Homo sapiens: one gene and its partners. The protein of the gene in region 3 purifies or fractionates together with the protein of the main gene of each other region. This does not show direct contact. Each region holds a gene or a part of one and is shown on either strand. Other genes may lie near its edges. The genes, in order: PPP2CB, TOX4, FGFR1OP2, STRN4, SLMAP, PPP2CA and MOB4.

Region 1 (3,500 bases), on a different chromosome or scaffold from region 3:
AAGCTGCACCTGTTCTTGTGATACACGAGCTCCTGCATAGTTATAATTATGCCTTATTTCATTCCTAGTGTTTTATGTGCCTTCCATCTTTTCTTCTAGATCAGTTTTGTTCACTATTATTTCTTTTCTAGTAACTTTTCAGAAAGAAAGGAAGGAAGGAGGAAGGGAAAAATATATAAAAGCTCTACTAACGCACCCATTTTAAAAACTAGATACTTCATTAAAACTGATAGGCTGTCTTTTAAAAATCATTCTGTCCAGCAATTTTATTATTAATGAAGACTATGTTGCTTCAAAACAATTAAAAACAACCTTAATTAAAATTTAACATCTTTTAAATTCACATTTTCTTTTAACAAGTCCAGGCAAAGTATCGTCCTTTCAAATTAATCACGGCAGTGTCCAAAATCATGGCTGAGAAAAAAGACTGTCAGGATTACACAGGGAAAGTTATAACCAAATTATATTCCCACGAGCAGTCTAAGAGAGAATTTATTACATTCTTGACAACTCTGGGCTTTCATAATTTAAGAATTATGGAGTTTTATTATATGTTTTATATTTATTTATTTTATTTTTTGAGATGGAGTCTCACTTTGTCACCCAAGCTGGAGTGCCGTGATACGATCTTGGCTCACTGCAACCTCTGTCTCTCTCAGGTTCAAGTGATTCTCCTGCCTCAGCCTCTCAAGTAGCTGGGACTGGGACTACAGGCATGCAATGCCATCCCCGGCTAATTTTTGTATTTTTAGTAGAGATGGGGTTTCACCATGTTGGCCAGGCTGGTCTCGAACTCCCTACCTCAGGTGATCCACCCACCTTGGCCTCCTAAAGTGCTGGGATTACAGGTAGGAGCCAACTTGCCCGGCTTTTGTTTTATATTTAAATTTAAATCAGTTCATGCTTACAGTGATTATCTCTAGAAATTGAAATAGGAAATTTGCATAATTTCTTCTTATACTTTTGAATGTTTCATGACATGTCTGCACTACTTGTTACAGCAAATGCAGAAATAGCATTTGCTTCTATTTTCTTTTTTTGTTCTTTGAGATGGGGTTTTGCTGTTGCCCAGGCTGAAGCCCAGGCTGGATCACGGCTCACTGCAGCCTTAACTTCCTGGGCTGAAGAGATCCTCTCACCTCTAGCTTCCTGAGTAGCTAGACCACAAGCACGCGCCACTATGCCTAGCTAATTTTTAAATTTTTTTTTTTGTAGAGACAGGGTCTTACTACATTGCCCAGGCTGGTCTTGAACCCCTGAACTCAAGCGGTCCTCTTGCCTTGGCCTCCCAAAGTACTAGCCACTGTGCCCAGCCAAGCATTCACTTCTCAGGGAAGGTGTAATACACAATATAACATTTGCAGTTACCATGAAAATAGAAATGAAAAGTTATTCATGGTAACCAGCAGACACTGCATGTATATGCAGAGATAGTTTTAAATAACATCTTGCTTTGCTAGTACTATACATCAGTGTCTTAAACATTTATTTATAATGTTTATCGATATCTTAAAAAGCACAGCATATTCTTTGGTTAAAAGATTTACATACATATCTGAGAACAACAGGAAAATTTGCTGGTCCAAATGTATGTGAAACTTATCCACTTCCCTGCTTTGAAATTTTAAGTATAAGGGAAGGAGGAGGAAAAGGCCGAGGAGATGCAGAAACACAGGTCATATGAATCTAGACCCCAGCTTACCAATAGTCAATCTCTGCTTCCATTTACCTCCTCCCAAGATGTAAGCACACATATACATACCTGTCCATCTACTAAAGCTGTAAGTGGAAGATAATCAAAGAGATCTGTAAAATATTTCCAAACGTTGGCATTCCCATACTTTCGCAGACATTCATCATAAAAGCCATATACTTGGGTAATTTGTCGGCTTTCGTGATTTCCTCTCAATATTGTAATGCGTTCTGGATAACGCACCTGGAAGAAAAGGAGTAAAACCCATAGTAAAATCACATTTTTACTAGTGTCATGTGAAGTACACCAGTCTCTGACCCATTTTTAAACACGGCGCTTTTGGCCACCAGTATATTAAATGTTAATTTCAGTTTCAAAATAAAAAACTTGCTTATTCATAACCAGGTCTTACTGGTTAACATTTGACGTGTTTATTATAATCATCCTTTTTCATCAGGTTTCGACAACCCTCATCAGAACCTTTAACTAATACTTATATTACTATAATAAACTTGTATCTGATACTTTGCTTCTATTATCTTCATCATCAAATTATTACTACTTTCCTAAATCTTTCTAGAACACTATGACTTCTTACTGCTGAATGAGTAGTGAAAATCACAGGTTTGAAGCTGAGACAAACTCTACAGATTAACTTCTTCCCTTTTCAATTTTTATTTCCCACAGGAAGATTGGATTTGCCAATAATAACACAAAAACAGGCCCTTGACAAAACTGGGCAAGATTTCAAATGTATTAATAGTTTCCTTTCTATTAAAAAACATAAGCGACTATTTAGTTAGGAATGCATCTGATAAGAAATACGAAAAAGCACTGGATTCTGCAAATTAAGCTAAAAGCTGCAAGTATGTACTTCAATTCATACATATTTTACTAAGCATCCGTTATGTGTCTAACGTAAGTTTGGTGCTATAAAGCCAGATGCCAGATCTACACAAGTACAGTCATGTGCTGGGCAGCATTTTTGTTAACAGATTACATGTACGATGTTGGCTGGAGCAAGAGACTATACCATTACAGCCTTTGTGTGCAGTAGGCTATACCACCTAGGTTTGTGTAAGTTCCAAAGATGACAAAATCACCTAATGGCACATTTCTCAGAATGTATGCCTGCAGTTAAGTGACCCATGACCATGTAATATATGGCTTCTGCTGTTGAGGGACTAACCTCACTAAGGACATATGTAAAATAATAAGTAATAGAAGGCAATAAGCCACTTTTGCAGCATAAATAAGGGCTGGGAGAATAAGTTTCCTCATAGTAATTTAGAGCAGAAGGAATAAGGCTAAAATGGTTGAAGGTTACATGGAGGAAGTGAGACCTGAGCTGAGTCTTGGCAGAAAGGTAAGAAATCAGGGACAGGATAACCTCGTGGGGGAAATCGACTATGGAAATAAACAGAGTCCAGAGCACTGAATAAGAAGAAACTTTGATTTGAGCCAGAGTTTATGCTACCAACCGCTGGCAGGCAAAAATTCAGACTAGACTATAGAAGGCCAGGCAAGGAGTTTGAATTTGATTCTATAGGCAACAGGCAATCAACAGGAAGTAACAATATAAAAGGGTTAAATAAGAGATTTCATCGGCCAGCGTATGCCAGGTGGATTTGGGGGGGATCAGATCTTGGAGGCAGAAATATTAGTTACTAAGCTATTGTAACAATCGAATTGTGAAGTGATAAACTGTGTGAAAATAGAAAGAGACAGGAACAACAGACTTTTCAAAGCAAGGATTTAAAAAGACTTGTCTACTGACTCAATATAACGGATAAGTGATAAAGTCAAA
Region 2 (3,500 bases), on a different chromosome or scaffold from region 3:
CAAAACAACATACATAAATACATGATTTGTGTACTACTGAGAAAAGTTCAGTTCTTGGGGAAAGTTTCAGTTTTTCCCATCAAGAACTGCGTGGTATTTTTTGTTATTTGTGTGTGTGTGTGTGCGCGTGTGAGACAGAGTCTTGCTCTGTCATCCAGGCTGGAGTGCAGTGATGTGATCTTGGCTCACTGCAGCCTTCAACTCCTGGGTTCAAGCGATTCTCGTGCCTCAGCCACCTGGGTAGCTGGGATTACAGACGCACACCACCACACCCAGCTAATTTTTGTATTTTTAGTAGAGATGGGGTTTTCCATGTTGGCCAGGCTGGTCCCGAACTCCCGACTTTTCAAGTGATCCACCCACCTTGGCTTCCCAAAGTACTGGGATTACAGGTGTGAGCCACCACTACCAGCTGAGAACTGTGTGTTCTTATGCTCCGTGTGCTACTTATATCTCAGACAACGACCAGATTTTTTACCATACCAAGTAAAATAGTAAGGAGAAGGGAAACTGTACATATATCTTTTTGTCTTTTAGGAAACTTTTACAAATGTGATTCAGAGATTGGGCATTTCACAGGCACACTTTTTTCTCCCTAGTTTCTGCTAGCTGGAAATTTTCTTTCTAGCAATGTCTTTTTTTTTTTTTTTTTTTTTTTTTTTTTTTTTTTTTGAGACAGAGTCTTGCTCTGTCACCCGGGCTGGAGTGCAGTGGCACAATCTCGGCTCACTGCAGCCTCTGCCTCCTGGATTCAAGTGATTCTCCTGCCTCAGCCTCCTGATGTAGATGGCATTACAGGCACCTGCCACCACACCTGGCTAATTTTTGTATTTTTAGTAGAGATGGATTTTCGCCATGTTGGCCAGGCTGGTCTCGAACTCTTGACCTCAGGTGGTCCACCCACCTCGGCCTCCCAAAGTGCTGAGATTATAGGCATGAGCCACGGCACCCGGCCTTTATTTTCTTTCTTTTTCTTTTTTTTTAGACATGGTCTTGGTCTGTCGCCCAGGCAGGATTGCAGTGGTGCAGTCTTGACTCACTGTGACCTCTGACTCCTGAGTTCAAGTGATCCTCGTGCCTCAGCCTCTCGAGTAGCTAGGATTATAGGTGTGTGCCACCATGCCTGACTAATTTTTTGTTCTTTTGGTAGAGACGGGTTTCACTGTGTTGGCCAGGCTGGTCTCGAACTCCTGGCCTCGTGTGATCCGCCCACCTGGGCCTCCCGAAGTGCTGGGATTACAGGCGTGAGCCACTGCTCCCAGCCTAATGTCTTCATTAAACCAGAATTAGAGGCTGGGCGCTGTGGCTCATGCCTGTAATCCCAACAGTTTGGGAGGTCAAGGCAGGGTGATGGCTTGAGCCCAGGGGTTCAAGACCAGTCTGGGCAATATGGCCAGACCCAATCTCTACAAAAAATGCAAAAATTAGCCTGGCGTCATGGCCAGGCGTGGTGGCTCACGCCTGTGATCTCAGCACTTTGGGAGGCCAAGGAGGGCGGATCACCTGAGGTCGGGAGTTCAAGACCAGCCTGACCAACATGGAGAAACCCCGTCTCTACTAAAAATACAAAATTAGCCGGGCATGGTGGCACATGTCTGTAATCCCAGCTACTAGGGAGGCTGAGGCAGGAGAATCACTTGAACCTGGGAGGCGGAGGTTGCGGTGAGCTGAGATCACGCCATTGCACTCCAGCCTGGGCAACAAGAGTGAAACTCTGTCTCAAAAATAAAATAATAATAAAAATTAGCCTGGCATGGTGGTGTGCACCTGTAGTTACTTGGGAACCTGAGGTGGGAGAATCACTTGAACCCAGGAGGCGGAGGTTGCAGTGAGCAATATCACGCCACTGCATTTTATCATGGGTGACAAAGGAGACTCTATCTCAAAAAAAAAAAAAACTGCCAGGTGCGGTGGCCCATGCCTGTAATCCCAGCACTTTGGGAGGCTGAGGCGGGTGGATCACGAGGTCAAGAGATCGAGGCCAACATGGTGAAACCCCGTCTCTATTAAAAAACACAAAAATTAGCTGGGCGTGGTGGCACACACCTGTAGTCCTAGCTACTCTGGAGGCTGAGGCAGGAGAACTGCTTGAACCCGGGAGGTGGAGGTTGTAGTGAGCCAAGATCGCGCCACTGCACTCCAGCCTGGGCCACGGAGCGAGACTCTGTCTCAAAAAAAAGAAAAAAAAAAAAAGACAGAAATGGTCATAATAGAAGAACATTTCAGGATCTAGAGGAACCTTGAGGTCTGTAAGCCCAACACTTTGGAGGCCGAGGCAGTAGGATTACTTGAGTCCAGGAGTTCGAGACTAGCCTGGGCAACACAGGGAGAGCTCGTCTCCACAAAAAATTTTAAAAATTAGCTGGGTGTGGTGGCACATACCTGTAGTCCCAGCTACTCGGGAGGCTGGGGCTGGAGGCTTGCTTGAGCCCAGGAGTTCCAGATCAGCTTGGGTGACAGGGCAAGACCCCATCTCAAAAAAAAAGAAAAGGAACCTTTAGGAACTCTATTTAAAGAATGCATTGTTCAATTATGAAAAAAAAAAATGTTGGTACCTATTGAATTTGATCTGAATCAGTTTATATTTACTATGCTATGTGTTAGATTGATAGAATTTAAAGTTTCTAAAATTCCAATTATCTGTTATAATTGGTTGGGGTGGGGGTAATCATTATTAGGATATTATCATTCATAACAATGGTTAATGATGGTGATTAAGCCATTATATGTATCAGGCAATGTGCTAAGATTTTATGCATGAAATCTCACTTATCCTCATAATAACCATATAAGGGGATTACCATTATAATTCCCATTTTACAGATGAAGAAAACTTGTTCAAGGTCTTGTACCCAGGTCTCTCTGACAGCAGTCTCTTGCTATTATTTATAAATGTCTATTGCTGTAAATGCCACCATTTAGATTTTAGTGTCAAAACAGAACCATAGCAGTTCACATCTTAATCAGACATTGTCTGTTAGCTGCATGAGTGGTGGCCTCATTCAGAAAAGAAAGAATGTGTTATTATTGACCTAGTTGGACTCAGAGGAAGAGATTGGGTCTTTAGCCAACTGGAGTAATCCTTTTCCTCTCTTAGAGAGAAGCTTGGTCAGAGCAAGACTAGCATTTTTGGCATTGTTGAGGTTTTCTGAAAATCCTATACTAATGGGAATCTTTATTTGTTGTTAACATTATAATTTCTAAAGTGGAGAAGAAGTAGGAAACTCTGCAAATATTTTAGAGGGGGTAAAGTTCCCATGACAGTACATTTTAGCATCTGTTTGAAAGGAACCTAAAACAACAAAGTATAATTGGCTGGCTGACAGCGAATTTCTGTGACCTAACAGTTTAGATGTAATAATTGTGAAATAACTGCTCTATTAGAATCTTTAGAGAGAGATTTCAAGAATCATAGTAAACAGGTTATAAAGGCTATGTCCTAAGTAATGGTACTGAAAGAATTTTTCATTAGAACCATAGGCATAATTTAAGACAAAAGA
Region 3 (3,500 bases):
AAGGACATATTTTCATATTTATCTATTATTGAAACACATTTTAGATTCTTTAAAATACTTCTTCCATTTTGGTGCTTGTACGTGTTTTTAACTTATTAGTAATTAATTCTATTAGAATTAAATACCTATCAAATAGCTCTTTATATGCCTTTATTATATTAGAAAACCTAATGATAGGTACCTCTTGTGTCAACCAGTAAAATAATAAATTAAATTAAAAATTTGTGTTTAATGTTTTCTAATTATGCTATTCATCTCCTAATCAAATGGCAATCCAGGGATGTTTAAGTGGTGATCTTTTGAATACAAAATTTAACTATTGTTAATGAGACCATTCTAAAATCATTTAAATTTAAAGGTATAATAATAACTATAGTAACTAAGACTTTTTAAAGGCACTAAAAGGAGTTGACTTAATATTATTTGTAAGATAAATATAATCTTGAGAATTTCTAAAAGGTTTGTATGTTTTATAACCTAAAAATAAAATGTTAAAGATCTAAAGCGAAGAATACCATTACAAAAAAAGTGCTTAGAATAGGATAACTATAGCTTGCAGGTCCCATCTGGTAGCAACTATGACAGAAGCAAATGTTTCCTAAAATATATTAGATTTTACTATTCACCAGAGCTGGTTTATTAATTAGTAAGGTTAAACATTTCCTAAGATAGCTGTAAGCCATCCTTTTTTATTATGTAGATTGAATTCTTCATCTAAGTTCAGATGATCCTTGCCTCCCATAAAATGACTATTCAGTTATTTGTTATTAATTTTCACTAATACATATTAATGTTTGTGATTTTGATTTTTCCCAAAAAGGAGACACTTCGACTTAATTAAACAAACATTAATACTGGCACTGGGTTAGTTATGGGAAATAATAAGATGAATGTACAAGCTTGCAGTATAGTGGGAGATACAGACACAAACATAACAATCTACTATAAGGTAGGGCGTGATGAATCCCAAAGTAGATGAATTGTTACTGGAACGCTAGAGGGAACAATATTAACTGTCATAAGGAAAATCTGGAAAGGTAACAAGGAAGGGAAGAAAGTCTGTCTCAGTCCAGCCTTGAATTAATTATGGGCAGGTAGGTAAACAAGCAGAAGTGGGTGGGTGGGCAGAGAAACTTGTATAATAAAAGCACAAAAAGTATGGTATTGTAGGGTGTGTTTAGGTACTAGTGCTCTGATATGCCTAAACACAAAAGTAATTTTACAACACATTTAGAGCTAAGAAACAGAGTTACACATAACAGCATTTTGGATTGGAGTAAGAGATCCTTTTGAGACTGTTATAATACAGAACTTTGCCCTTAACTAGAAGTTTTTGAGCACATACTTAAAAAATCAGTAGAAAGTTTGAGAGCTCATTTTTACCCAAATACTAATTTTCATGTTATTTTTGAACAGATGCCTTTTTGGAAATCTTAAAAAAGCAAACATTTCAAACAGTTGGCTAACACGCATGAACTAACACTCATTCAGTTTTTAAATTACGGATGATATCCGTATTAACATTATAATGACTCTATACTACAGATTGACATGGTACATCGTAACAAGTCCGAAGGATTCTTCCTTGATGCATCTCGACACATCCTTGAAGCACCTCAACATGGACTGGAGAGAAGGCACTTGGAAGCAAATCAGAATGTACACTAAATAAACAGTCAACTTTTGGGGTGTGGATGGAAGGGGGGTCCATTTTAAAAGTGCTTTTACATTGAATTTCCCTCCCAGATTAGATCAGCAAATAAATGAAATTTATTAAAAGAATGTTGTGTCTTTAATAGCCATGCTGTTCAGTGTAGAAACTTTAAATCTCTCATTAATTTTCTGTGTATTGTATCATGTACAGCCTGTTAGATATTTGCAGGTTTTATAGGTTATTCAGTCCAACGCTTTATTTATTTGCTCTTGTTAGTTGTTGCTGTGAAACAGTCATTTCCTTTCTGGACATCAAAGATATTTTCTTGGCATTAATTTTAAACTGATTTCATAAGGTCAAAGTATTAAATGTTTTAATTCAGATTGTGGATAGTTTGTAGTCCTTTGATTTTGCAAATGAAATTAAAATGCCTTTGTTTAGATGTTAGGATTAAGTATAGTAGTGCTCTCTCCATTGTGTCTTAATTTTTTTTTAACTCACTTGTGGCAGGTCTTTATTGAATAAAGGAGGAATAAACCTAGACAGGGAGTTAGAAATGAAAGACATTTCAAGACAGTTCAAGGGTTATGTTGGTGACACTTCTTGTCTTCCAGACAGTTTTGAAAGCACAGATCTTGCCTCTTGTGCTTGTTAAAAAATCTGTGATACTTCTCTGAAGATTTTATAATTAAATAAGTGAACCATTACCATGACCTTTTATAAAAGTGCTGCCCTATTTGAAGTATTGGGTTTTTTCTCATGATGAGCTTTGTTAGACTTGGTACTGAAAAAATCAGTAGTTTTTTTCCTTCTATTTTAAAGGCAAAGAAATGCTTGCTTCAGCTAGGCATGGTGGCTCATGCCTGTAATTGGGAGGCTGAGGTGGGTGGATCACCTGACGTCAGGAATTGGAGACCAGCCTGGCCAACATGGTGAAACCCCATCTCTACTAAAAATACAAAAAGTTAGCCAGGCGTGATAGCGGGTGCCTGTAATCCCAGCTGCTCGGGAGGCTAAAGCAAGAGAATTGTTTGAACCTGGGAGTGGGAGGTTGCAGTGAGCCGAGGTCGTGCCATTGCACTCCAGCCTGGCCAACAAGAGCGAGACTCTGTCTAAAAAAAAAGAAATGCTTGCTTTCTGTGTAGTTTTTTAACTTAGGTCAGTGCCATAGGACTGACCAAATCATAAATTGAGGATGCTGTTGGTATTCAAAGTTTTTACTCATTACCCTTACTCAGTTTGCAGCTGCAATGATCTGTACTTAACCTGCTTTTACATATTATGCTTCCTTGACAATGGGAGGAATTTTAATGGTTAACTTGCAGAATATGACAGATACTTGTCTTAATATCATTCTTCCTACCATAATCTAATTCAAAACTATCCAGTAGAACTTTCTGAAATGATTGGAATGTTTTTTATCTGTGCTGTCCAGTGTGGAAGCCAGTAGCCACATGTGGCTGTTGAGCACTTGCAGTGTCACTAATGCGTTTGAGGGACTGAATTGTTAATTTTTAAAAATGTATTGATTTTAATTAAGTTTAACATTGTTTTGGACAGCACAGATTAGCCTTTTAGAGTACCTTCTTGCTGAGTACTAGCAGTGTATAGGTTTCCCCATGAAAAGGACCTACATTTTTGTTGGTTAAGAGGTTATTAAATGTGCTTTGCCAAAGATACTACCTTGTCATTTCTTCCAGCTTATTAGTTCCGTGGGTTTCTTGGAGTACTGTTAAATCCTTTTTACAAATATATATATACACAACTACTGAAGAGACTGTTTATTTGGGGAGTTATTCACTTTTATATTTAAGTCTTAGGCTTAATATGATAAAATACCTCTCAG
Region 4 (3,500 bases), on a different chromosome or scaffold from region 3:
AAGGAACTGGGCCCATTTCGAAGTTGCGAACAATGGACAGGGAGAATAAAAATGATGAAAGAAGTAGAAGCTGGCATTTGTTAGCCTTTATTCTGTGCCAGGCCTTGACTGAGCAGAACCTAGCACATGAGGGGAGGGCACTCTTGTGACTCTCATTTTCTAGAGGGGCAAATGGAGGCTCAGAGAAGGCTGATGACCTGCGTAAGATCATGTAGCGAGTAAGTGTCTAAGTTGGGCCTGGGCTCTGGCTGTTCTGGGCTGGAACGGTGGGGTGCTTGGGGAGAAGCCAGAGATGAGCCTTGGGCCAGGGCTTTGGCAGAAGAGCTTCTGGACCATGGTCAGGGGCCAGGATCCTGCCTGGAAGGCAGTGGGCCCAGTGTCTCCAAATGACCTGTTGACAGACTGGAGCAGACGGGGCAGCTCAAGCCAGCAGACGGTGTGAAGTGCTTGGCAGGAACCCGGGGTCGTGTCTGTGGCACATTTCTCTCACACCCTGGGCGGAATGCAGTGGGACGGCTGGTCCCCACAGCGGGCTTGGCTTGTAAAGCTTTTCTATTGGAGCAGGAGCCGAGCCGAGCCACCCACTCTTGTCCCTAAGCTCCAGAAGTAGCTTCCCACGCCTCCCAGAGACAGATGCTCTGGTAAGAATAGTGGGACGCCACCTCCACCAGCAGCCTTAGGGACAGCACCTGCCAGAGGGCGTCAGGGGTAGTCCAGGGCGGTGAATGCCCACCCTCCTCTCCACTGCCATCCCTGACCCGACTTCCCCCCAAAGGCAGCCACCAGGTGAGGCCCAGGCTGGCCCCATTGTTATCTCAGGGGTTAAGGGCTCCCCTTCGGCCCTCGTTGTGGGTGACGTGGCAGGGGGCCCTGGAAACAGATCCATCCTGTCCTCTCAGTGCTCCCTGAACCCTGGCTTGGGATCTTTGTGCCTGAGGAAGTGGCTGCTGCCCATTACTGTGGGGTGACTGTGGGCTGGCACTATACCTGGGTGAGTGATAGACACACCGGCATTGAGCCTGAGCCCCATTATCTCCCTTTGCCTCCTGTCTGCCCTCCCAGGCTCAGGTGGCCTTCCTTCAGGGAGAGAGGAAAGGGCAGGAGAATCTAAAGACGGACCTGGTGCGGCGGATCAAGATGCTAGAGTATGCGCTGAAGCAGGAAAGGTGAGCCTTCATCCTGCCCTGGGCCTGCCTTCTGGGTCCGTCTCAAGCACAGTGTCAGGAGGCCACCAGCCACGCCTCCTTCCAGCTAAGGGAGATTTGGGGTCGACATTCTTTTCCATCATTCCAGTACCATAAGATTCTAGGGGAGAAACAGGACAGAGTAGGTGGGATTTGGGTTAGACACCAGGAACGATATTCACGATGCTAGTGGCCCACTGTGCGCCAAATATCGTATAGTCCTTACCTCCGTTATCCCTTATACCTTCCAATAGCCTAACGGGTATTGTTAGCCCTGTTTCAGATAAGGAACTGGGGTTTCAAGGGCTGATGGTTTCCTCAAGGACCCCTGAGAGCAACCTAGGTTGCCTGACTCCAGGGAGTGGTTTCTTCCACCAGGCCAGGGGTGTGGGGGGATGCTTCAGCCTCAGTAGTAGACGAGCTGGGGGAGGCCCTGTGATTTGGGGTTTGGGATTCTGGATTCCTTAGGTAACTACTGACCCTGTCTACTCTCCCGCATCTCTTATTCATTAATCATTTGCTCTTTTAGGGCCAAATATCATAAACTGAAGTTTGGGACAGACCTGAACCAGGGGGAGAAGAAAGCAGATGTGTCAGAACAAGGTACCCACCCTCTGATGCTCGCACTGTCGGCACCCTCCCGCAGAAGCTGAGTGTTCTGGAGAAGCAGGAAGATGGGGTGCCTCTTTCTCACTTTGCTCCTTAGAAGGCAGAATCGGCCCCGGGGCTGGGGAGGGGCGGAATCTCACTCTCAGAGCCCTCCCTATGGGCTGCCAGGTCCCGTGCTGGACCCTGGGGGCCAGTCCCGCTTGGGTCCCCCTGTGCAACAGAGGCAGACACACGAGCAGCTCACGGGATCCCTTTGCGAGGAGTGGGCGCCAGGGCTATTTATAGAGTGCTGGGGACGGTGCGGGAAAGCCGGGGAAGACGTCACTGAGGAGGTGGCGTTTGAACAGGGTTGCCGTTCAATCGTTCATCCAAAAAAGACTTTATTTGTAGGGTACAGGCTTTGTATCACAGATCAGGAATACAGCAGAGAGCACGGGAGACATGGTCTCTACCCTCTGGTCCCTTAGAGTCTAAGCTCCTTGAAAGATGACTCCGTTCCCCAGCAGGAGAGTCAGGGGAGAGAGCACAGATACAGAGACGCACGCTGAAAGGGTTAGGGGACAGGGAGTCGGTCAGTGTGCCTGGGCAAACAGTGTAGGGCAGAGGATGTGGGAGGGCGGGCTGGGTGAGGGGGAAGCTTGGCCGAGGCAAGCTGAGAAGACCTTGTGTGCTCAGCTGATAGTGATGGTCATTACCTGCTGCCAGCTCCTCTCACTAGAACGGAAGTTCCACAAGGGCAGGTCTTTGTTTACCCATGTAGCCCAGGCCCCTGGCCAGGCACAGCGTAGATGCCCAGGAAAGACTTGAATAAAATACTAAGCAAATTATCTCATTGCATCCTCTCAGCACTCCCAAGAGGGAGATGCTGTTATCATTAAGCTCATTTCTCAGAGGACGAAACTGACACGGCTTACACTAACTCAGGGTCACACAGCTGGGATGGGGCAGAGCTGGGCTTGAACCCAGTCGGCCCTTCTCTCAGAACCAGGCCAGCTTTCTGGTTTTGAGATAACACCCTTATCTTGTCGGGGGCCAGTTTGGGGAACCACCAGTCAGGAGACCTAGAGATGAGGAACGCTTCAAGGAGGAGGAATCCCCGAGTAAGGGAAGAGAGCAGGGTTCCAACACTCAGGAAGTGATGCCACAGGACCTGCGACAGTGACCGATTTGGGTTGGAGGGGTGAGGAAGATGGAGGAGGTGATGGGTAGGTGGCAGTGGCCTGACTTAAGACAGCCTCCGTTCTCTCACCCGCCAGTCTCCAATGGCCCCGTGGAATCGGTCACCCTGGAGAACAGCCCGTTGGTGTGGAAGGAGGGGCGGCAGCTTCTCCGACAGTGAGTGTGCTCGGGGAGGGGGGCTGGGGACACGTGACACGTTTGGCTTGAGAGATAAGTCCAAAGACTCCACAGTCCTTTTCCGTCCCCACTGGGGATGCTGAACTATCAGGATCTTAGCCAGCCATGGCTGGAATGGCTTTCACCCTGTGGGCGGAGCCTGGCCTGGGGAGAGGGAGGGAAACCCGCTGCAGGAGGCAGACGTGGGGACACCCCTGTTGGAATGTGTCCCTGAATGCCTCTGTGGCTTTTTTTTTTTTTTTTTTTTTTGTCTCAGTGGCCATAGGAGCCCTGTGTGGCTTTTTTTTTTTTTTTTTTAGATACCTTGTGAAGATTTATGAAGCATGGCTTTTTATTTCCCAAGGGTAATAT
Region 5 (3,500 bases), on a different chromosome or scaffold from region 3:
GAAACCCCATCTCTACTAAAAATACAAAATTAGCTGGGTGTGGTGGCGCATGCCTGTAATCCCAGCTACTCAGGAGGCTGAGGCAGGAGAATTGCTTGAACCTGGGAGGCGGAGGTTGCAGTAAGGTGAGACCGCGCCATTGTACTCCAGCCTGGGCAACAAGAGCGAAACTCTGTCTCAAAAACAAATAAATAAATAAAGCTCCACCAAGAGCCGTGTTGAAATGTGAGGTTCTAGAGAATCAAAGCCATGAAAAATGGGGACTCTCTGCCTTCTTACTTTCCATTTCATTTTTTTTTTTTTTTCTGAGATGGAGTCTTGCTCTGTCACCCAGGCTGGAGTGCAGTGGTGCAATCCCAGCTCACTGAAACCTCCACCTCCCAGGTTCAAGCAATTCTCCTGCCTCAGCCTCCCGAGAAGCTGGGATTACAGGCATGCACCACCATGCCCAGCTAATTTTTGTATTTTTAGTGGAGACAGGGGTTCACCATGTTGGCCACACTGCTCTCGAATTCCTGACCTCAGGAGATCCACCCTTCTCGGCCTCCCAAATGCTGGGATTGCAGGCATGAGCCACTGCGCCTGGCCTCCATTCCTTTTGAATCACTAAAAACAAACACACAATAACAATCTCAAAGAGCCTTGGGGTCTTCCATACCTTGAAGAACCTGTATTTGTTTAGTGGATTCCTCAACTTGATTTCGATAGGCTTTTCTTTCTTCTTCCAAAAGAGCTAAAAGTAAAAACACAGTATCTATTAATAGTTTTGTGAATTAATGAAAGTACTCAGAGTTGAGCAGCTGAAAATTTCTTTTAAAATTCTCTCCTAAAAGATTATTGAAAGAAACAAAAGTTAGGCAGTAAGTATTATCAGTATTAGCAGTTAGTTTAAAGATTTTAGGAGCACAGAACTGTAGTAAGTAATAAATCTATTCAACTGAGTAGTGGAGTTTTCTGGACCTGGTATCACCAAGACAATATGTGCTTTTCTTAACATGAGAAACAGTCTTGATAATTGTTAATCAGCATTTTGAACTTAATTTTTTAAAAAGACTTAAAATTCTTATATTTACTGTCAAGCACATAGTAAACACTAAACTAAATAATTGCTATTTACCAAATATTTTTTCATTGTAATTTAATATATTAGCCTGGATCCTCCAAAAGGTTCAAGTTAAGTGAATACCAATTCTAATTTCTTTGAGAATTAGGAAAGGAAAGAAGTAGTAACAAGAAGTTCCTAGTTCCCTCCTGGGATGTAAATCTTCCTACTAGGCAGGAAGGCCATCTTGGAGAACATGAGGGCTCCAGAAGTCATTCCCTTTCTCATTTTAAGACTCTTTGAGATACTAATTGTCTGCAACCAGGTAGTTACTATGAATGATACAGAAATGTAAGCTCTAGGGAACTGCACAGACTCCACTGGCTTATGACCTATAGATAAGTGAGCTACTAGAAAAGAATGTGGCCAGGACATTAGCTAACATTAGGCATAATAAAAATTTAGAAATTTGAGTTTTCCTTCTGTTGTACTTAATATGCAATTAACTATTAAGATCTTTCAGTTAGTAAAGATCTTACTTGATTTTCACATCAACAGTGTGAAGGTAGAGCAACTGTAACTCTCCTCATTTTACTGACCTGAAACACAAGTTTAGAGAGGTCAAGTAAATATACCAAGATCACATATCTCATAAAGTTGTGAATCTGGAACATGCCTCCGGACTCCAAGTTTGGGGCCACCCAATTATATTGTGCTGCCTCCACACATCCCTAAAGAACCAAAGTAATCTTGATCTCACCTTGAAGTTCAAAGCATTTTTGTTTACTTGTTCTAGCTAGCTCCTGGGCTTCGATCAATTCCTTTCGAAGATGCTGTATTTCTTGCTTTGCCTCAATTTCTGACTGTGCACCCTGCAAGTCATCTGACAAAAACATGTTTATTTTAAAAGCAAGAGTTAGTATCACACTATAATCTACAATAAAAGACTGGTAATCTCTCTCATGTTTGCACATGCATAAACAACATAGAACAACTGAGTTAAATAAAACTTAGAAGCAAATTATAGTAAGCATTTTAGTAGTTGGGAGAAAATACAAATACAGTTATATATATTAGTAATCATGGTGATGACATTATAAAAATATATTAACATAAATTATATATTCACAATTCTAGCATCAAAATAAACAGACAGTGACAGATTATAACTCATTGCTTATTAAGACTTGAAATTCAGTGAGATGAGCAAAATGCTATACTTCTTCATCAATTTTGAAATTTCTTGATAACCAGTCAGAAAAATTTCACTTGGAACTTAACTGGATATGGAAAACAAAAAGAAACTTTTCTTCAAGTAACAGCTAAATTTTAGCACAATTACCCTAGTTGTGGAACACAAAATAAAAACTAGGCTGAAAGCTCTACTGAGCCTACTTTGTCATCATCATTTCCCCAACACGCACATATAACAAATATCTGAGCTGGGCGTGGTGGCTCATGCCTGTAATCCCAGCACTTTGGGAGGCTGAGGCAGGCGGATCACGAGGTCAGGAGATCGAGACCATCCTGGCTAATACGGTGAAACCCCGTCTCTACTAAAAACACAAAAAATTAGCCAGGCGTGGTGGCAGGTGCCAGTAGTCCCAGCTACTTGGGAGGCTGAGGCAGGAGAACTGCTTGAACACAAGAGGCAGACGTTGCAGTGAGCCGAGATCGCGCCACTGCGCTCCAGCCTGGGCAACAGAGTGAGACTCTGTATCAAAAAGAAAAAAAAAAACCGCAACAACAACAAAAATCTGCTGAATATATTAAATGATGTAACCTAAGTGGTTTTACCGAAATAAATTAAATCCAGCATTCTATTTCAAATATGCCCCTTCCCCTAAACTCCTTCCTCTCCAATCATTCTGCTTTTTAATTTTTTAAAACCTTCTGCTACTGAACACTGCCTGAAATAAATATATCATCAGGTAAGCCATATTGTTCTAATGAATTCTATTTGAGTATCACCTTGGTTTATAAGTACCTCAGCATAATAACTTCAATTCATCAAAAAAGAGCTAAGAATAACTTTCACAATACAATTACAATAGGTTTTGGAAATTATATATATATATATATATATATATATTTTTTTTTCATATTCATAGATTATATCCTATTTTTCTCTCTAGAAAAATTGTATTCTGGCCTAGGCGCGGTGGTTCATGCCTGTAATCCTAGCACTCTGGGAGGCTGAGGCAGGCAGATCACTTGAGGTCAGGAGTTTGAGACCAGCCTGGGCAACATGTGGAAACCCCGTCTCTACTAAAAATACTAAAAATTAGCTGGGCGTGGTGGTGCGCGCCTGTAATCCCAGCTACTCAGGAGGCTGAGGCACGAGAATTGCTTGAACCTGGGAGGCAGAGGTGGCAATGAGCCAAGATCGCGCCACTGCACTCCAGCCTGGGCGACAGAGAGTGACTGTGTCTCTAAAAAAAAAAAAAAAAAAAAAAGA
Region 6 (3,500 bases), on a different chromosome or scaffold from region 3:
ACACTTTTTTGAGACGAAGTCTCGCTCTGTTGCCCAGGCTGGAACGCAGTGGCGCGATCTTGGCTCACTGCAACCTCTGCCTCCCGGATTCATGCCATTCTCCTGCCTCAGCCTCCTGAGTAGCTGGGATTACAGGCAGGCGCCACCATGCTGGGCTAATTTTTGTATTTTTAGTAGAGAAGGGGTTTCACCATGTTGGTCAGGCTTGTCTCGAACTCCTGATCTCAGGTGATCCACCCGAGCCTTCCAAAGTACTGGGATTACAGGCATGAGCCACCGCGCCTGGCCCCCTTAAACTCTTAAACCTCACATTTAAACTATGTATTCAGGCTGGGCACTGTATCTTATACTTGTAACCCCAACACTCTAGGAGGCCAAGGTGAAAGGATCACTTCAGCCTAGGAGTTCGAGACAAGACTGGGCAATATAGTGACACCCTCTCTCTCAAAATAAATAAACCAAAACCCTACATATTCAGTAATGCAAGAAAATGTTCAGGTAGAATTACTTACAAAGAGTATTTTAGAGTATCGTCAAGTTCCATGATTGCAGCTTGGTTACCACAACGATAACAATAGTTTGGAGCACTGAAAATCGTTACTACATTCCGGTCATGGCACCAGTTATATCCCTGCAAGGAAAAGGAGACAAAAATCTTACTTTACTCCCTCAATTCAACTAAATGTTACTTCACTCAAGAGAGAAAAAAATCTCTACTCATTCCCACCCCTGCCAAAGGGGCTTAAGAAATGTTAATGCTTTTTTTCTGGATGACTTAATAATCTCCTGTACTTTATACAACCTGTAAGGTACACATGTATTTATTTTCCCCCTAATTACAAAACTTGTTTTTTTTTTAGTACTTTAAAAAAAAAAAGGCTTTAACAAACAGCAGCAACCACCAAAGAATGAAATACTTCTCATGTATCTGCCTTGCTGTAAATGACAATGTCTCATTAGCCTCTTCTCTTGCAGTGGCCTTAAAACATGATTTAAGAATAAGTATTTAAGTGGCCATTCCCTAGAGAAGTAGATACTTAATCCTGGAGACCAGAACCTTACCAATTTTGTCAGTCACAGGTAAAGGCCTGTTAAGTTGGTCACTGCCCAGGAACAAATGCAATATGCCTCTAGGATCTCCAGCCTCATTTCCTCAAAGTCCATCCACCTGAATGCATGAGCTACTTTTGTTACTTTTTGTTTAGTATTGTTCACAATTTCTTTACCTTTAGCAAAGTCAGATTTTATTGATAACCACAGAGTTGTACTAGTATTAATCTAATTAGGACCTTATTTTAAAAATATTCTAATCAGTGTGCCATGTCAAGAACCTTTGCCTCTTTCCCTTCTTTCAAATCACCTGTAATCCTAGCATCCAAAGGACCACTTAAAACATTTTCGTGTATTTCTTTCCAGTCTCTCCTACATACATACATTAAATATACGAAATAACATTGGGATCATAAAATATCATACATGCACACCAACTCCCTATATCTTACTTTCCCACTCTTAAATCTCAAGTACTTCCTAGTCATTCAGATTTCTCTGAAAACATGTTAATGGATTCATTGTAATCAAAAGCTTGAGCTTTTAATTCTAGTAGTGTGCATCTACTGAAAAGGCTCAGGCTATAATGATAAACTCATCAGAAGGAATAGATGGAATTTCTCACAAATGTCATTAATTTAAAACTCCCTAATATCTTCTTTCCTTAAGTTTACTAAAAAAACAAGTCATATTTCAGAGAACACAGCATACCTCCATCACTAGCTGGTGAGCTCTAGACACCAACGTGAGGCCATTGGCATGATTAAATGTCTCAGAAATATCTTGCCCAAAGGTGTAACCAGCTCCTCGAGGAGATATACCCCAACCACCACGGTCATCTGGATCTGACCACAGCAAGTCACACATTGGACCCTAAAAAATAACTTCAAGTTATAAAATGCCTTTTACAAACATGGTTAACACATTATTTGAGTAATTCATCAGAAGCAGCACCCTAAGCCACCCTTTTTGAGTGATGTTTGTGGACAATGCTAATAGACTGTGCAGTTGAAGTCAAACATCTGCATCAAATAAGATGTATTTTCCAGCAGACTTTATGAGACACAGCTGACATCCATGGGACCCAGCAGCAACATGCCCTAATTAATCTGCCTATATTATGCAAATTTCAGAGTCTAAGACAGACAACCCAGGTCCTAATAAGCCCAGCTTCACAGCTGTTGTGATCTTGGCAGGTTTCTTAATGTCAGCTTCTTTTGAACAACAGGGCAGACAAGAGTGCTCACACCTCAAGTTGTTTTTGAGAATTATATGAGAGAATACATCTAATGAACTTACAATTAAACTTCTCCACTCCCTAATAAGTTTTCTGAAAGAATTTTATCAAATAAAAGTCATACCTCATGGGGAACTTCTTGTAGGCGATCAAGTGCTCTGATATGATCCAGTGTATCTATAGATGGCGAGAGACCACCATGTAGACAGAAGATCTGAAAAGAGTGGTTTAAAAGGTTAACCTCACCTAAAAAATTTGTAAACATTCTTGGCTGGGCACAGTGGCTCATGCCTGTAACCCCAGCACTTTGGGAAGCTGAGGCAGGAGGGCTGCTTGAGGCCAGGAGTTTGAGACCAACCTGAGCAACACAGCAAGACCCTGTGTCTCTACAAAAATTTTAAAAAATGAGCTGGGCACCCCCATCACTTGGCCCCTCTGGTGTTTCTGTGCTCTGCCTGAATGAGACTTGACTTTGCAGGGTTCATCTTTGCTCCAGCCCACTCTGAACTATTGAGTACACTCCTGTTCTTCCTAATAGACCATCGCTGTCACAACCAGACTCCACTTCAAACAGCTCCTTTGAGAAAACTTCTTGGATATCACTCCTGCCCTTTGCCAGAGACTAGTATCTTCATACTCATAAAATTTTATTGTAAGTTCTTTTGTGTGCACATCTACCTAGGCCAATAATTAGCTCCTTACATCTCCCAGACTTGTCCAAAAACAGTCTGAGAGGGTAAATGGGCTACATCACCCACCCCTGTGATCCCACCATACAGTTCAGTGCCTGATATAAAGAATAATGCACTTAAAAAAGTTGGACACATTTGTCAAATTAAATTTTTTTTAAGTTTGAATGAATGCTATCAATATCTATTAAAAAATATCCCCAAAGGGGTGTTAAGAGTGGAAAGAGTCATAAGCACCTGAACACTAAAGAAAGCAGATTCTCTGAAATAATCAGCAATGAGTTTTAGATCCACATACCTGCCCATCCACCAAGGCAGTGAGAGGAAGATAGTCAAAAAGATCTGTAAAATATTTCCAAACATTTGCATTTCCATATTTTCTTAAACATTCATCATAGAAACCATAAACTTGTGTGATCTGTCTGCTCTCATGATTCCCTCGAAGAATGGTGATGCGTTCACGGTAACGAACCTAAAACAATAAAATGCAAAACATAAACAACTAGCTCTTTCAAAAACCAATG
Region 7 (3,500 bases), on a different chromosome or scaffold from region 3:
GTGAAGAATAGATATGACTTTTTATTTATGTATTTGCATTTTCAGGCAGTTCTGCCTTGAGCTAAATGGACTTGCTGTCAAACTTCAGGTAATATTTTCTTTAAGTCAAAGTTATAATTGAAAGTTCTGATTTTTTTTTCTCTGTTTTTATAACTTAATGTGCTTACAAAAACGTATCCACATTTCTAACTTTCTTCTAGAATTTATTATGGAAATATAGTAACCTAAATGATAAGCTTTTTCATTATTATTTTACATATTAAGAAATATAATTATTTTTAACAGAGTGAATGCCATCCAGATACTTGCACTCAAATGACAGCAACTGAACAATGGATTTTTCTTTGTGCAGCTCATAAAACTCCAAAAGAGGTGAGGATTTATGAAATAGAGTAACTAATAAAATTATTATAGCCTAAATCTCTCTCAAGACAATGTTAGACAAGTTTTTAGGGTTTTTAGTTCACTGTTCATTTTGCTATTTCATTTTGAGTTGCTTGTTGTGAAGTTGTTACTGCAGTGCTATTTTAGGATTTCTTATGATAAGCATCATTTTTCATAATTGGGCAATTACATGGGCTAGAACTCACTTCATGATCCACTGGCTATTACGGATTAACATCTGTCACATTGTGCTGATATCTACTGTGTAATGATTGAGATACGCCTGTTTAGGTTTTTGTTCAGATTATTTCTTTTGATAGGAAGAACTATTGATTACTCTGATGCCTAGTTTAAGTAGAAATGTTACTTTTGAGCTTTTAAATATTCATGTTGTTTTTCTCCTTATTTAGTTTTTGTCAAGGTAAGACTATAGGCAGTAGCAGTTTTTTGTTTTGCTCTTTTTTTTTTTTGAGATGGATTCTTACTCCGTTGTCCAGGCTGGAGTGCAGTGGTATGATCTCGGTTCGCTGCAACCTCTGTCTCCGGATTCAGGAGATTCTCATGCATCAACCTCCCAAGTGGCTGAGATTACAGGCATGCGCTATCATGCCGGGCTAATTTTTATATTTTTAGTAGAGATGGGGTTTTGCTATATTGGCAAGCCTGGTCTCAAACTCCTGACCTCAAGTAATCTGCCCACCTCAGTCTCCCAAAGTGCTGGGATTACAGGTGTGAACCACTGTGCCTGGCCTACTGTACTTTTTCTTATTTAAAAAATTTCTTCATATCATCTGATACCCAGTATACTTTTCCTTAGTTGTCTCCAAAATGGTCTTTACATCTGGGTTGTTTATGCATTGCTTTTCCCTTAATCTGTATTCCCATTTAATCTGTTATAATTACTTTTTACTTGACACTGACTCACTGGGGATATTGGGTTAGGCCAATTCTGTAGAATCATAGACCTTGAAGTGGTCATTATATTGATAGACTTCTAAGGCTTGAAGACAAGTGAGGCCCTAGTTGCAAAATCAATATCTGATGTTTTTTGTTTCAAAAAGGACAAATGCTCCAAAATAAGGAGTATTTGATACCTAAGAGAATAGTACTTATTTGGAAGACTGGTTTCATTCAGGATGTCACATTTTTATGTTAATTAATTGAAGCAGTATTAAGATTGTATCTGTCGGCCGGGCGCGGTGGCTCACGCCTGTAATCCCAGCACTTTGGGAGGCCGAGGCGGGCGGATCACGAGGTCAGGAGATCGAGACCATCCCGGCTAAAACGGTGAAACCCCGTCTCTATTAAAAATACAAAAAATTAGCCGGGCGTAGTGGCGGGCGCCTGTAGTCCCAGCTACTTGGGAGGCTGAGGCAGGAGAATGGCGTGAACCCAGGAGGCGGAGCTTGCAGTGAGCCGAGATCCCGCCACTGCACTCCAGCCTGGGCGACAGAGCGAGACTCCGTCTCAAAAAAAATAAAAAATAAAAAAAATAAAAAGATTGTATCTGTCTACATCTGGGAAAATCCACATAGTGGTTTCATTGATAATTCACTGAAGTTGGCTACTTAACGTAGTGAATGATGTGATTATTGCAATTAGGAAACTGAATCAAGAAGGCTGAATCAAGGCTAGTTTTGTTTTGGCAAATAGTAATGATGTATTATTCTTTCTTTAGAGTGGAAGTGATATCCAGTTTGTGATGTGTTATGACTCTTAAATATACTGTCATTCTCATATCCACTTCTTTCTTGATTAATATTAAATGACAGGATAGTCATTAGCATTAAGACCTGTAAATTGAGTCTTAGAATTGCAGCATTGCTTGCTGAAGTCCAGATCTGTTGAACTGGCCATGTGTCAAGGGAGGGTGATAGTAGGATTTCCAAGTGGTAGTTATATTGAGTGGAGTTACTGTAAAAATACAAACAAAAGAACAATTTGAAAGGACACTTTCTGAACTGTTTTTGAATAACTGCTTAGTCAGGAAACTATAGGAACTGACAAACTAAGCTAAGAAAATTGCTCTCATGGATTAAAATCACTAGGGAGATTCTGAAGTGGGAGCAGCAGAATACTTAGCACCAATAATCATTTATTCAGTATCCTTGAGAATTAAAGAGAGGCATTCAGCATATAGAGTAAATTATACAAATAGTGCTTCTAGGCGACAAACATTATAACTTACTGTCTACAAGCCCTCACAGTCACATGCTGATTGTGATCACTTGCAGTAGCATTATGATTATATATTTGGAAAAATATAATACATAAAAATTTGTAAACACCATTACATAGTATTTTGTAACCTGCTATATTTTGCCATTTTTTGCTGTTATAACTGTTACAGAGTAGGAATAGTTACCTGAGAATTAACTGGGGGAAGGTGAAGGGAAGGCAGCTAAAAACAATGCAAAATGTCATCCAAATTAAAAATTCAGAAACCAGTTAAAGGTCTAAAGATACAGTGATGTGGTAACCCATGAGCCCCATGTAGCTGTGTAGCACTTGAAATGTGGGTAGTCAAAATTGAAATATGCTGTAAACACAAAATAAATACTGGATTTCGAAGACAGTAACGCCTGTAATCCCAGCACTTTGGGAGGCCGAGGCAGGTGGGTCACCTGAGGTCAGGAGTTCGAGACCAGCCTAGCCAACATGGTGAAACCCCATCTCTACTAAAAATACAAAAAATTAGCTGAGTGTGATGGGTGTGCACATGTAGTCCCAGCTACTAGGGAGGCTGAGGTGGGAGAATCACCTGAGCCCAAGGACTCAAGGTTGAAGTAAGCAAAGATCACACCACTACACTCCAGCCTATGTGACAGAGAGAGACCATGTCTCAAAAAAAGATTCAGAAATGGCCAGTAAGCACATGAAAAGATGCTCAACATTAGTTATTAAGGCACATCTCAAAACCACAGACAGTTGGTGCGAGGGTTGTGCGTTATTGTTATGCTGATTAACATTGTCTCCTCCACAACCATGCTTGATAAGGGAAAAAAAAAAACCACCGTGAGAATGGAGAAACAAAATGTAGCATGGACATACAATGAAATATTATAAAACCATGAAAGGGAATGAAGTTCTGATACATGCTACAACACAGATGAACC

What was found.
Region 1: the proteins of FGFR1OP2 (region 3) and PPP2CB purify together in Homo sapiens (affinity purification with mass spectrometry; 4 studies listed by BioGRID and IntAct, with this or other methods). This does not show direct contact.
Region 2: the proteins of FGFR1OP2 (region 3) and TOX4 fractionate together in Homo sapiens (co-fractionation; one large-scale study listed by BioGRID). This does not show direct contact.
Region 4: the proteins of FGFR1OP2 (region 3) and STRN4 purify together in Homo sapiens (affinity purification with mass spectrometry; 2 studies listed by BioGRID and IntAct, with this or other methods). This does not show direct contact.
Region 5: the proteins of FGFR1OP2 (region 3) and SLMAP purify together in Homo sapiens (affinity purification with mass spectrometry; 3 studies listed by BioGRID and IntAct, with this or other methods). This does not show direct contact.
Region 6: the proteins of FGFR1OP2 (region 3) and PPP2CA purify together in Homo sapiens (affinity purification with mass spectrometry; 4 studies listed by BioGRID and IntAct, with this or other methods). This does not show direct contact.
Region 7: the proteins of FGFR1OP2 (region 3) and MOB4 purify together in Homo sapiens (affinity purification with mass spectrometry; 3 studies listed by BioGRID and IntAct, with this or other methods). This does not show direct contact.

What each region holds. Positions count from the first base shown.
Region 1 is NC_000008.11:30,795,819-30,799,318, forward strand, and holds part of PPP2CB (serine/threonine-protein phosphatase 2A catalytic subunit beta isoform), read right to left. Parts: intron 1,937-3,500; coding exon 1,763-1,936; intron 1-1,762.
Region 2 is NC_000014.9:21,483,695-21,487,194, forward strand, and holds part of TOX4 (TOX high mobility group box family member 4), read left to right. Parts: intron 1-3,500. UniProt on the Homo sapiens protein: Transcription factor that modulates cell fate reprogramming from the somatic state to the pluripotent and neuronal fate. In liver, controls the expression of hormone-regulated gluconeogenic genes such as G6PC1 and PCK1.
Region 3 is NC_000012.12:26,958,970-26,962,469, forward strand, and holds part of FGFR1OP2 (FGFR1 oncogene partner 2), read left to right. Parts: intron 1-1,545; coding exon 1,546-1,659; coding exon of another isoform or gene 1,660-1,668; exon of another isoform or gene 1,669-1,782; intron 1,783-3,500. UniProt on the Homo sapiens protein: May be involved in wound healing pathway.
Region 4 is NC_000019.10:46,736,451-46,739,950, reverse strand, and holds part of STRN4 (striatin-4), read left to right. Parts: intron 1-564; exon of another isoform or gene 565-641; intron 642-1,062; coding exon 1,063-1,166; intron 1,167-1,713; coding exon 1,714-1,787; intron 1,788-3,049; coding exon 3,050-3,128; intron 3,129-3,448; coding exon of another isoform or gene 3,449-3,493; intron 3,494-3,500. UniProt on the Homo sapiens protein: Calmodulin-binding scaffolding protein which is the center of the striatin-interacting phosphatase and kinase (STRIPAK) complexes.
Region 5 is NC_000003.12:57,906,309-57,909,808, reverse strand, and holds part of SLMAP (sarcolemmal membrane-associated protein), read right to left. Parts: intron 1,926-3,500; coding exon 1,803-1,925; intron 755-1,802; coding exon of another isoform or gene 734-754; coding exon 659-733; intron 1-658. UniProt on the Homo sapiens protein: Associates with the striatin-interacting phosphatase and kinase (STRIPAK) core complex, forming the extended (SIKE1:SLMAP)STRIPAK complex.
Region 6 is NC_000005.10:134,198,574-134,202,073, forward strand, and holds part of PPP2CA (serine/threonine-protein phosphatase 2A catalytic subunit alpha isoform), read right to left. Parts: intron 3,449-3,500; coding exon 3,275-3,448; intron 2,502-3,274; coding exon 2,412-2,501; intron 1,935-2,411; exon of another isoform or gene 1,924-1,934; coding exon 1,762-1,923; intron 632-1,761; coding exon 513-631; intron 1-512. UniProt on the Homo sapiens protein: Catalytic subunit of protein phosphatase 2A (PP2A), a serine/threonine phosphatase involved in the regulation of a wide variety of enzymes, signal transduction pathways, and cellular events.
Region 7 is NC_000002.12:197,540,066-197,543,565, forward strand, and holds part of MOB4 (MOB-like protein phocein), read left to right. Parts: intron 1-45; coding exon 46-88; intron 89-285; coding exon 286-372; intron 373-3,500. Other genes in the region: HSPE1-MOB4 protein, read left to right, coding at 46-88, 286-372.